Regions from separate parts of the Homo sapiens genome. Here region 1 is linked to region 2. The links come from fine-mapping of genetic effects on plasma protein levels. A gene starts in region 2. The other region holds a variant in brackets. All regions are shown on one strand. Distances are from middle to middle.

Region 1 (5,372 bases), 47 kb before region 2:
CTTCAAATCTAAAAGAGGTCTTGCAATCTGTGCCCAACCGTGCTCATTCTGAGTGGAATGAGAATTCCACACTCCAACCCAAACCCAGTGAGCCTTTAATGGCATATTCTTAAGCGGCAGACTTGGATTCAGGGCAGGAAATGCCATCTGAGCTTATAAAGCCTTCAGCAGAGGAATATCAGCTCTAGAAACCCCAAACAGAAGCAGGCCTGGCCAAGCTAGAGACCTACAGATGCAACACACCATGGGCTAGAATTTTTAGCACAAAGGGCACTTTTATCACAAAAGGCTAGAAAAACAGTCCTGTCCATTTTTAGAAGTCTATCAAAATATCCTGTCAAAATGAAACAAAATACAATAATAAAAAATTCATAGCAGCAGGGCATGAAGATGAGGGTCTAAGGCAGCCCAGGAGGCCACCCACACACCAGTCTCCGAGTGTCCTTGCCAAATCTCTCTCTGGACATTCCCTCAACCCAACCAATTCTCCCCAAGTCCAAAACACAGCCTCTGCGCATCCTTCCCAACCTCTCCTCTCCCTCACTCTCTAGCTTGCAAACTCCTAGTTACCTTCAAGGCCAGGCCCAAGTGTCACTGGGTCTCGGCAGCCTTCCCAATGCCCCAGGCAGGCACAACCACCCCCTGCCTGGGCAGCCACACCAGTCTCTCTATACTGCTGATCTCCCAGCCCTGACCTGAACGAGTACCACCTTTTGCCATGTGCCCTGCTGAACGTGGGCTCCTCCCAACTAGGGCTCTGTGCCTGGGCTCTGGCCCGGAGCCCCATACACTCCAGACTGGGTAAATGTTGGATAACTATTTGGTGATTGATACAAGGCTTCTGACACAAAGAGAACTGCCCAGAGGTTATTTTCCATTCCCCCAAAAAACTCCAAAAGAACAAGGGTTCCAAACCACTCTTTTCCCTGCTTCCAAAAGACTTTCTGAAAATGAACCCAGCATCTGGAAATTAACTCACTGTGTAACTGTTTCTAAATAGGACAGGTGGACCCCAAAGCGTCTTTCCTCATGGGCTGTCTCAGCTGCCAGGGCAAATGTGTCAATTGCTGTCCTATAAAAGCACGAGGCCACCTCAATTCCAGAAATAAGCAGCAAGGAGCATTGAATATGCAGCGGCCACAGGAAGCGGCAGGACTATACGAATGGAAGCTTCCCACGTAGATTGGTATGTTTCAGCTGATTGGCAGGTAGATGACCAGGTTAAGCACTAAGCGATAAAGCGCACACCCACTGGCTTTTGTGATGTGCATCTCTCTGTCCCTCGGGAGCTTGGATGTTTCTTTTTGGATGGGCCCAAGAGGGTAGCAACAGTTGCTCACTCCAGAAGATGGCAAATACTTGCCCACCCTTTGTCACTGGCCTTAGAGTGACTAGAGGACATAATTAATCATTAAGACACTCCTTCCTGCCAGCATGGGCAAGCCTTCAGAATTCTTCTCCACTCGCACCATGGAAATTCCCTGTCACCCCTGGAATAAATTACTTTCTGTTAAGTGTAGAATCCAGGCAGGTAAGCAAGGTCAGAATGTTAGCCAGGGATTCACTTTGCGATATTTATGGTCCCCTCAGATTTAATGGTATAATCTGATATATATCCAAACAAAATGATATCATCTGATATGAAACAAAATGAGTGCACAGAGGGGTAGAAAACAATGTGTCCTTAATTCAGTTTCTCCAGAACACTTGGCATCCGCCCTGCCGGCCTCGAGGAAGGAGCGCAGCTCCGTGAAGGGTGGGGACATTCCCACAAGAGAGAAAGCAGAATACAAAACAGGACACAGCCTCATCTCTTTGCAACTAAATTTTCAAAATCTTCCATCTAGATGACTCTTAGTTGAGGAGATTCTTCATCTAAAGAGAACTGAATATTCCTCACGTTTGGACGTTAATCAGAAAAAGGCAAATCAGAAGGGAGAGAAATCCTGACTTGGGAAGGTCAGCATGCAACAGATACTACCCCAGATCTCCAACACCAGGCACAAGGATTTATAGCTAATCAGACGCTTAATACAGTCTATTCATCAAGTTTCTGTAGCCATTGGACACTTACCATACCTGGGCAAAGGGGCAAAGGGGGAAAGTTTGAAAGATGAAAGAGATGTGTGTCCACCCACATAGAAAGAGCCGGGACACGTTGTGGAAAGCAAGTTGCTACATCAATAGAGCCCGCCCTTGGCCCATTTAAAGGAAGGGCATGGAAGCAGCACTTATGGAGCCTGCAGGGGCTCACCAGGCAATGGCTCTGTTCACCTC[C/T]GCGGGGAGAGAGGGCTGGGAGGGCAGGTGAGCGAGAACCAGCACATCTGAGTCTGTCTATTCCTGTGTTGTTGGAATAGTTTCTCTGAAAAACAAAAAAGGATCAGAAGAGACAGAGAGAGAGGGAGAATATAAGCTCCTTCCCCTAGGCCCCGCCTGTCAATCCAAGGAGAAGGCCCTACCTGGAGGCCCAGGATTGTGTGCCTTAGAGGATGTGGGCACTGACCAAATGGGTTCTTGTCAGGTGAGCAGCAGGCACCAGGGGTGGGAGAGGCAGGAAAGCCAGGCCCACCCTCAGGAGAAGGGTGGGAAGTCTCCTGAGCCCTGGGGAGCTCCGGCAGGACACCCTTACCTTTGGGTTTGCCATCTTTTCCAGTCTGTTTCCTGCATTAACTGGCAGGATCCCCCTTTGCTGAGATGACACAGGAAAAAGAACAGCCACAGCCCTCACTCTCTGTGGCCTGGACTGTGAGGACCTTGGGGGTGAGGCAACCAGGCCCGCCCAGGGAGTGGGAGTCAGGCTGAGCTCCCCAACCCTTGGGAATGGGCAGGCATCTCACAGGTGCTCAATTCTTCTCTCATACCATTTTTTTATCTGTTAGAGAAAGGCACCAAAAAGAAGCTTGCCTGGGTCAGAAAAGCAAGCGTGCCCCAGCAAATCCCCTCTCCAGCAGCGACGGAGAGCACAGGACAGCAGCAAGGGGCAGACCTGGCCACCTCCAACTTCCACATTTGAGGGTCAGACTCAGGCTGGGGAAGACCACCTGCCCAAGGTCACCTTGTTCAGGTTCAAGTCAGAGCTAAGGGCTCAGTGGGTCCATTCTGAAGGGGAAAGGCTGTGAGTGAGTCTCAGGGAGGCTGGGATTGCCCTGGAGTAAACTTTTGCAGCGTTCTATGCATGATTCTGAGCCAGGGGATCCCTTCTAATCCACCTTTGGGAGGATACAGCACTTCTGTGTTGTGGTTGGAATAGGAAGACCACAGCCCTGGAAGGTTAAGAACTTACTCCTTTTCCCAGTTTATGAATGTATGACCTATTTATGACCTATGAATTTATTAATCTATTCTCTTGGTTCAAGTCTGTTCTCACTGAGAATTTGAGGCAAAGTCTTTGGGGAGACTGGGCCAGACCAGCTATGGAGAGGCAGCAGGAAGGGCTTGAGAGAGCACCCACAGTGGGAGGGAAGCCTGACGGAGTCTTCCATCTTATATATAAAAATATAAGTAAACTTACATTTTATATGACCTTGCCCTAGCTCTTTGAGGTCCCAATTCCCCTGGGTCAGGAAAAGATCATCCCTGAGAAAACAGAGGTCCTCATGGTTGACCATGCTGCAACTTGGAATGAGGCTCTCCTTGCAGGACAGAGGGGGCAGCACATTAGGCCTGGATCCCAAAGTGCAGAGATTCCTTTTGGGAAAGTTTAGGGCCAGATCCAGATGTGTGGTTCTACCAGCAGCCGGTTCTAGGGAGGTAATGTCATCCTCCGTATTCAGCTGTTTCCCCCAAGATTTTATAGAGTACATATTGGTAGCATTAACAAAGTGAGCTGTGGAGTCTACTTTTCGGGAACAGCCATACAATAGTTGGGGCAAGTCAGCGTACAAGACAATGGCCTGCATTCAGGCAAAGGGAGGCCAACCCAGAAAGCCCCAGAAACTCTGAAACATCGCAAAATATAAAGGAGACCCCCAGATCTGCGAAGGGCTGAGGAGATAGCAGCACAAGTCCACACATTCTTGAAGGAGAGGAGGGGATCTGGAAGAACAAAATTGGAAAGGAGCATCGCACACAGACAGCTAGCAACATACAGAGAAATACTCAAACCCTACTAGCCATCAGCAAACTGCAGGTTCACCTGACATCCCATCCAGAGGTTTTATATCCTCAAACCACAACCAAAACATGTAAACCCATTGAGTCAGCCGGGCTGCACCAGGACGGACTCTACTTCAGAGATTTCTGTAACTTCCTGCTTCTGGTAAAGCTGAAAACGCCCTCATGATGGATTTTCTGATGGTTTTAACCCAATGCTAACAACCTTCCTTGGAACAGGCACTGCTGAAAACAGTGCAAAGTCACCGCCACTTCCTGGGATCTTAGGGGGTGTTTGGTTTTTGAGCAAAACTGTTTTCTGAGATTCACACTCAAGACCTCATGGGGATCTTACAAAGGGGACAAAGAACCAAAATGTGTCCTGTCTCTAACTATGCCAGGCAGGCAGAGGAAACAGGCCAGGTTCTAACAGCAAGAGGTTGATAAAAAGGCTCAGTTCTATGAGACAAGACAAGGTGTGTAACATCGGTTTTATAAAATGATGGAATTGATTCACATACTAAGGACTTTTCTGACTGAAAAATTTTGATAGTGTGGATTGCTAAGTATAAAATAACTTTTCCTTGATGTATTTTTTGTTTGTTTGTTTAAACTGGGAAGTTGGATATGAGTATGCACTTGTAGAAACATGTGGTCATGCGCGCCCAGACCTGCATGGTGGGTTCGAACCGCAGGGACAGACCCAGGAGATGGACCTTCTTTTCTAAGGACCGAAGCTGTAATTAAACATTCCTTATGGGCTCTGCAGGCTCCAATGATAAAGGGTGTCCTAGGACTCTCAGGGAGAAAATATCTCAGGACTCCTGAAGGCTTTGCCAGCTCCATAGCTCCAGGGAAAAGACTCTCAAAGGAAGTCGAACTAGATTTTTTTTTCCTTTTTTTTGTTTGAGTCAGGGTCTTTCTCTGTCACGCAGTTCGAGTGCAGTGCAGTGGTGTGATCACAGCTCACTGTAGCTTTGAACTCCTGGACTCAAGGGATCCTCCCCAGTTAGCCTCCCGGAGGAGCTGGAACTACAGGCACATGCCACCACACCCAGCTAAGTTTTTTGGTTTAGATTTTGTGTTTTGTTTTGCATGGAGAGACACAGTCTCACTATGTTGCCCAGGCTGGTCTTGAACTCCTGGCCTCAAGTGATCCTCACACTTCAGCCTCTCAAAATACTAGTATTAGAGGCATAAGCCACTGCACCGAGCCCCAAACCAGGCCTTTAAGCATTAAAGCAAACATATACAGAGTGTGTCTTCACTCTCCTGTGCGC
Region 2 (5,358 bases):
AGCAGAAGAAAAGCAAAGGAGCCAGTATCACGCAGCGACAAGGTGCCCTTTAGCAGCAGGAGTGGGCTCAAAGAAATGAGTGGTTTAGGTCACCTGGTGAAAATAACGAGGCTGACCAAAGGAAACACTAATTATAATCAGGTCAGCTGGACTCCGTTAGTGAAAAGAGATCTATGCAGCCTCCTGACCTCTATTCGGATGGTTATTCGCTACTTTTGCAATGATTAGCAATTGTATGCCAAGCACCTTCACAGGGGGTAAACATCTTTCTCACTAAATACTAGTTTATGTTAAAAACTACAAACACCAGATGAATTGGAAGTTTAACAGAATTAACGAGCATGTCACAAAATTAAGTTTTATCCAGTCCAAATCCTTCCTGCAACAATTATGTTCCGGGAGGGGCAGGGAGCTTGCAGTTATCAAATAAAACTGGCTAAATAACAAAACACAATTCTCCCCGTGTCACTGCCTCAAATTTACTCTGCTGTTGCAAGATGTCATGATAAAGGTGATGGCAATCTATATAAAACATTGTTATTGGAATAGCCTTTGAAAGTTGAAATGTGACTTAGTCTTTACGTGTGTCCCGTGGTCCCTGAGGCCGGGCTGGACGCCTGGAGCTTTGGCGCCCCCTAGCCATTCGGCACTGAACAAGTTTCTCCAACTGCAATGCGAGGGAAAAAAGAAGAGAACCAAGAATAAAACAAATTTTTTAATCCTTTCCAAAAAGACATTGTTTCTGATCTTCCCCTGTCCACTCTCCAGATGATAAAGCTGAATAAAAAGTGCTACACTAACCAGTGGTCAGTCCAGGCTCTGCTGCAACATTGCACTAACCAGAACTGCAGACCTGGGACCTCAAGAATTGCATTTGATGCCGAACCCAGCTCTAATTTCAGAGTCAAGGTCTCTGCGAGTATTTAAGGAACGGATGTAAACCTGGGGGATTCGTTTTGTTTCCTTCAATTTTCCAATGAAATCAGAGATCCTGTTCTTGGGTGTCAACGCAGATACTAGAAGGAGGTGATACAAGAGAAAGGAAACAGCAAGCGACGATTATGGCACGGTTTCCTGTAAACAAGGTTGAGTGTAGCCACAGCCTGAGCACTGTGGGAGAAGAGCTCATAAGAAAATGACGGTGCTGGGCCTTCGTCACCCCGGGGCACTCCATTGTTCTTGTCTTTGGTCTCTTTTTATTTGTAGAGGTCCAATTATTTATTTATTTAGTACAAGAGGGAACGAAATTGATCTTTCCATTCTAAAAGGAGAGTATATATGTATAAAAGGAAGCTGTATAGATATGGGGGAAGAGGTGGACAGGGGGAAAAGGGGAGAGGACGAGAGAGAGAAAGGGAGGGAGAGGGACAAGGAGAGACACTGGGCGAGAGATCGATTAGGAGAGACAGAAATGATGAATGAAGATTAACTTCACCCAAGGCTTCGTGCTGGAGGGGAATGGAGGAGCTCCTGATTTGCTATTACTACTCCAAACTGCAAAGGGCTCCTTCAAGTCACCTATCCACCTCCTAAGGCAAGCGTCCAATTTCAACAGCGTTCAGGAAAGTCTCCTCCCGCGGAGGTCTCACCGCTTCCCACTCCACCCCCACAAACTCTTTGGAAAAGTGCCTTGAAAAATTTAATCCTCAATCCAATCCTGGACCACCAGCGTCCTCTGTTGGTCACCGAAGGGAGGGGGTGCGCAGACAAAACTGAAGAAACTCGAGTGCCAGAGAAGGCCGACAGGAGTTACAGCGACCTCAGCGCGCAATTGCGCCCCCGAACTTTACTGAAAAGTGTTTAGATTGCAGAGATAAGCTAGAATCCCAACGCATCGAGAATACAGTAATACGAAGTCGCCTTCAAAAAATGACAATGAAAATTGCCTATTAAAGGACTATTTGGTTAATTACGTTTCAGCAGTGCCCAGTTTATTGTCTTTATTATTCTTTTGTCATGGGTGTAAACTCCATTTGAAAACATAATCAGGGAGAATACCCAAGACAAGAAGAACAGTTGTCATTTAAAATATTTGAAAAGCCCTGCCTTAAGGACGCATTCGCTTGCCGGTCCACTCTTAATTGGAGACTTGCGGTGTAGCAACACGTGAGAGTCTTCTTGCGTTGAGAAGTAAGCCTGGAAAGGGGCGAAGGCCCCGGGCGCATCTTCAGATGCGTATTTGTGGGCCCCTGGGGATATAAACAGCCCAGCGGGTGTAAATTAAACCCCGCAGTGCCTTGGCTCCCTGAGACCCAAATGTAAGTCAGAAATGTCCCAAGACTTCGCCTGCCAACGGAATTAAATTTTAGAAAGCTCCACGAGGTACACACGAATGCGGAGCGCTGTATGCCAGTTTCCCCGACACCGGCTCGCCGCAGGGAGACCTCACCCCGAGAGCGGAAGGGGTAAGGGCGGCGGGGTCAAGGAGATCGGGGGTGCTGAGTTGGCCAGGAGTGACTGGGGTGACCGGGGGTGCTGAGGTGGCCTGGAGTGCCGGGGTGGCCGGGCACACCTTGGTTCTTGTAGACGACAAGGTGACCCGGGCTCCGGGCGTGCGCACGAGGAGCAGGTGCCCGGGCGAGTCTCGAGCTGCACGCCCCCGAGCTCGGCCCCGGCTGCTCAGGGCGAAGCACGGGCCCCCGCAGCCGTGCCTGCGCCGACCCGCCCCCCTCCCAACCCCCACTCCTGGGCGCGCCGTTCCGGGGCGTGTCCTGGGCCACCCCGGCTTCTATATAGCGGCCGGCGCGCCCGGGCCGCCCAGATGCGAGCACTGCGGCTGGGCGCTGAGGATCAGCCGCTTCCTGCCTGGATTCCACAGCTTCGCGCCGTGTACTGTCGCCCCATCCCTGCGCGCCCAGCCTGCCAAGCAGCGTGCCCCGGTTGCAGGCGTCATGCAGCGGGCGCGACCCACGCTCTGGGCCGCTGCGCTGACTCTGCTGGTGCTGCTCCGCGGGCCGCCGGTGGCGCGGGCTGGCGCGAGCTCGGCGGGCTTGGGTCCCGTGGTGCGCTGCGAGCCGTGCGACGCGCGTGCACTGGCCCAGTGCGCGCCTCCGCCCGCCGTGTGCGCGGAGCTGGTGCGCGAGCCGGGCTGCGGCTGCTGCCTGACGTGCGCACTGAGCGAGGGCCAGCCGTGCGGCATCTACACCGAGCGCTGTGGCTCCGGCCTTCGCTGCCAGCCGTCGCCCGACGAGGCGCGACCGCTGCAGGCGCTGCTGGACGGCCGCGGGCTCTGCGTCAACGCTAGTGCCGTCAGCCGCCTGCGCGCCTACCTGCTGCCAGCGCCGCCAGCTCCAGGTGAGCCGCCCGCGCCAGGTGCGCTGCGTGCAGCACCCGGCGCACTGGCGCCGAAGGGCCTGGGGGTTGCTGGGTGCCGCTGCGGGAGACTCCGCTTTTCTTCTCACTGGAGATAATATGTGGGGAAACTGAAGGCGCTCCGGGAAAGGTGAAGGCGGTCGCCGGAGGGACCCTCCCCAGCCGGCCCTCTACTTGCTCGATTCTCTAAGTGCAGAGTACTTGTAAATTGCAAAGCGCTTTCAGTGAAAATGGGTTAAAGGTTTCCGGAGCTGAGGGGAGCGGTACCGATGTTTAGCTGTTGGAAAGATCCTGGACACAGGAGATTCTCCTCGCCCCGCACGGGGGTGCACACGGACTGCAATCCCAGGGATGCTTGGGGATGGGGGGGATATAGGCGGATTTGGACCAAGGAAGGTGGGCAGGCACGTTGTAGGAAATAGTACCTCTCTTTTAAAATACTGACTTTGCACAGCCTTTTGGTTTGCAAAGCAATGTCTAGTCCCGGTATGTCCAAAAACAAGTAAAGTGGATTCGGGTTTTGATATCTTCTGCGGTTGGAAAACCTGAAGCTGAAAAAGAAGTAACTTCTTAAGGTTACCCAGCGGCCACAACAGAGTGTAGGTTTGAACTCCGCGTGCCACTTTCAGTACCATACCATTCTTACAACTCGGGCCACCCCTGCACCTGCGCCGACCTCAAACAAACTTCCAGGTGCGTGGTGGGTGCGGGCAATGTGGACTAAGTCAATTTCAATGACACGGAAGGGAATTGGAATCAGTCCTAGGGCTGTCTCCCTTCTTAATCTGAAATGGGGGGGGGAATGAGATGTTGTTAAGGGGAGCCCCAGAAGAGGAAAAATGCAAACATTTGGCAGAGTTACCCTCTTGGCTTAGCCACTATCAGTATCAGGCAGACAGCGACTCTGGTAAGGGCATCACATTGTTCCCTTAAAAAAAGGAGCGGGGGTTGTTTAAATGGATTTGGCAGCTGTTCTTTCAAGCATTCTTAGCCAGCCTCACCTAGTTATATGAGAAATAAAGTTCCTGCCTTGCACAGCTGAAGGCTGGGAGAATTCTCCCCATCCTAATTCCCCCAACTCCCCAACGATCACGTTGGACAGATGTCACTGGGCAGGCCCCCATCTAGGGCTAGCAGGATGAACAGTCCCTTTATAATTTATGTAGCTGTAGAGTTCCACGCCCGGGTGAAGTTATTTTCTGGCTCGGCAAGGCTGGCTCTGTTCACCCCTGAGAAATGCTGGATTCATGGAAAGGCAAGATGCCTGAAACATACACTGGCTCTGGTCAGCTGTTAAAGCTGCTGGAGGCATTTGTCTCTCGGGGCAAAGTTATGTCATTTGCCAAGTGTCGTACATTATTGTGCATTTTGGGGTATTCAAAAAGTGATCTTAGAAATACTGATACACATCGTCATTCTTGGGCTTTAGCAATCATCATGATTACCACCTTAGTAGCACTGTAGTATAGGTTGATGTGAGTTATAAGATTATAAAAAGATCTAAGTGACTTCTAGAATCTATTTGACAAAAAAAGGTAAATTTTCGACAGTCAAAAGTCACAATTATCTGTTGCTTAAATAGAACTGTTTTGTCTTCATGCCCTAGTCTGCAGCCCAGGCATTAAGAAGAAACCAAGGAAATTTAAGAAATTACTCAAGGTTCTTAGAAAAGAAGTATAAATACGTTTATTTACATGTTCTTAGAGTATTTACATTCTTAGTATCTCTTTTATCTCAGTATTTCCTTGAAAAAGAAAGCAAGCTAAGATTAAAAGAAATTGAAACCAAATCCTCGCAGGTAGGGACCTCCTCTGTGAGGCTCTGTGCTGGACCCTGGGAATGTGTGCTTCCCAAGGTATGAAACCCCTTGGGGAACTTTACAGCAGGACCTCAGTGAGCTGTTTGGCAGGTGAGGAAACTAAGACCCAGAGAGGAGAGGGACTTTCCTAAGGCCCTGGTGAGTGACCTGCCAGTAGCCACTTCCAGGGGAGAGCAGAGCATCTGCAGCCAAATCATTGCAGCCCCAGGTAGCTTTCTAGAATAGAC

Alleles and levels. Positions count from the first base shown, and alleles are read on the strand shown. Strength reflects both the effect of a copy and how common the allele is.
For the plasma level of the protein whose gene starts at base 2,760 in region 2, allele C in region 1 goes with a lower level than allele T (strong association).

What was found. PIP is the chance, under the fine-mapping model, that this variant and not a neighbour inherited with it causes the effect. The UK Biobank Pharma Proteomics Project read protein levels with antibody pairs (Olink). The fine-mapping took linkage between variants from a reference panel, not from the people measured, so its PIPs are less certain.
Region 1: its variant is fine-mapped to the plasma level of the IGFBP3 protein (UK Biobank, PIP above 0.99).

Annotation. Positions count from the first base shown.
Region 1 is chr7:45,965,417-45,970,788 of GRCh38, reverse strand. The region is part of intron 1 of LOC102723446 (a long non-coding RNA gene); the gene reads right to left. Among named protein-coding and RNA genes, the nearest start is that of IGFBP3, 47 kb to the right of the region's middle. The variant C/T (reference allele first, on the strand shown) is at 2,278.
Region 2 is chr7:45,918,674-45,924,031 of GRCh38, reverse strand. It overlaps IGFBP3 (insulin like growth factor binding protein 3), which reads left to right and starts at 2,760. Exons shown (of 5, transcript NM_000598.5): 1 at 2,760-3,294. The coding sequence starts at 2,892. RefSeq lists enhancers at 1,796-2,376, 2,377-2,957.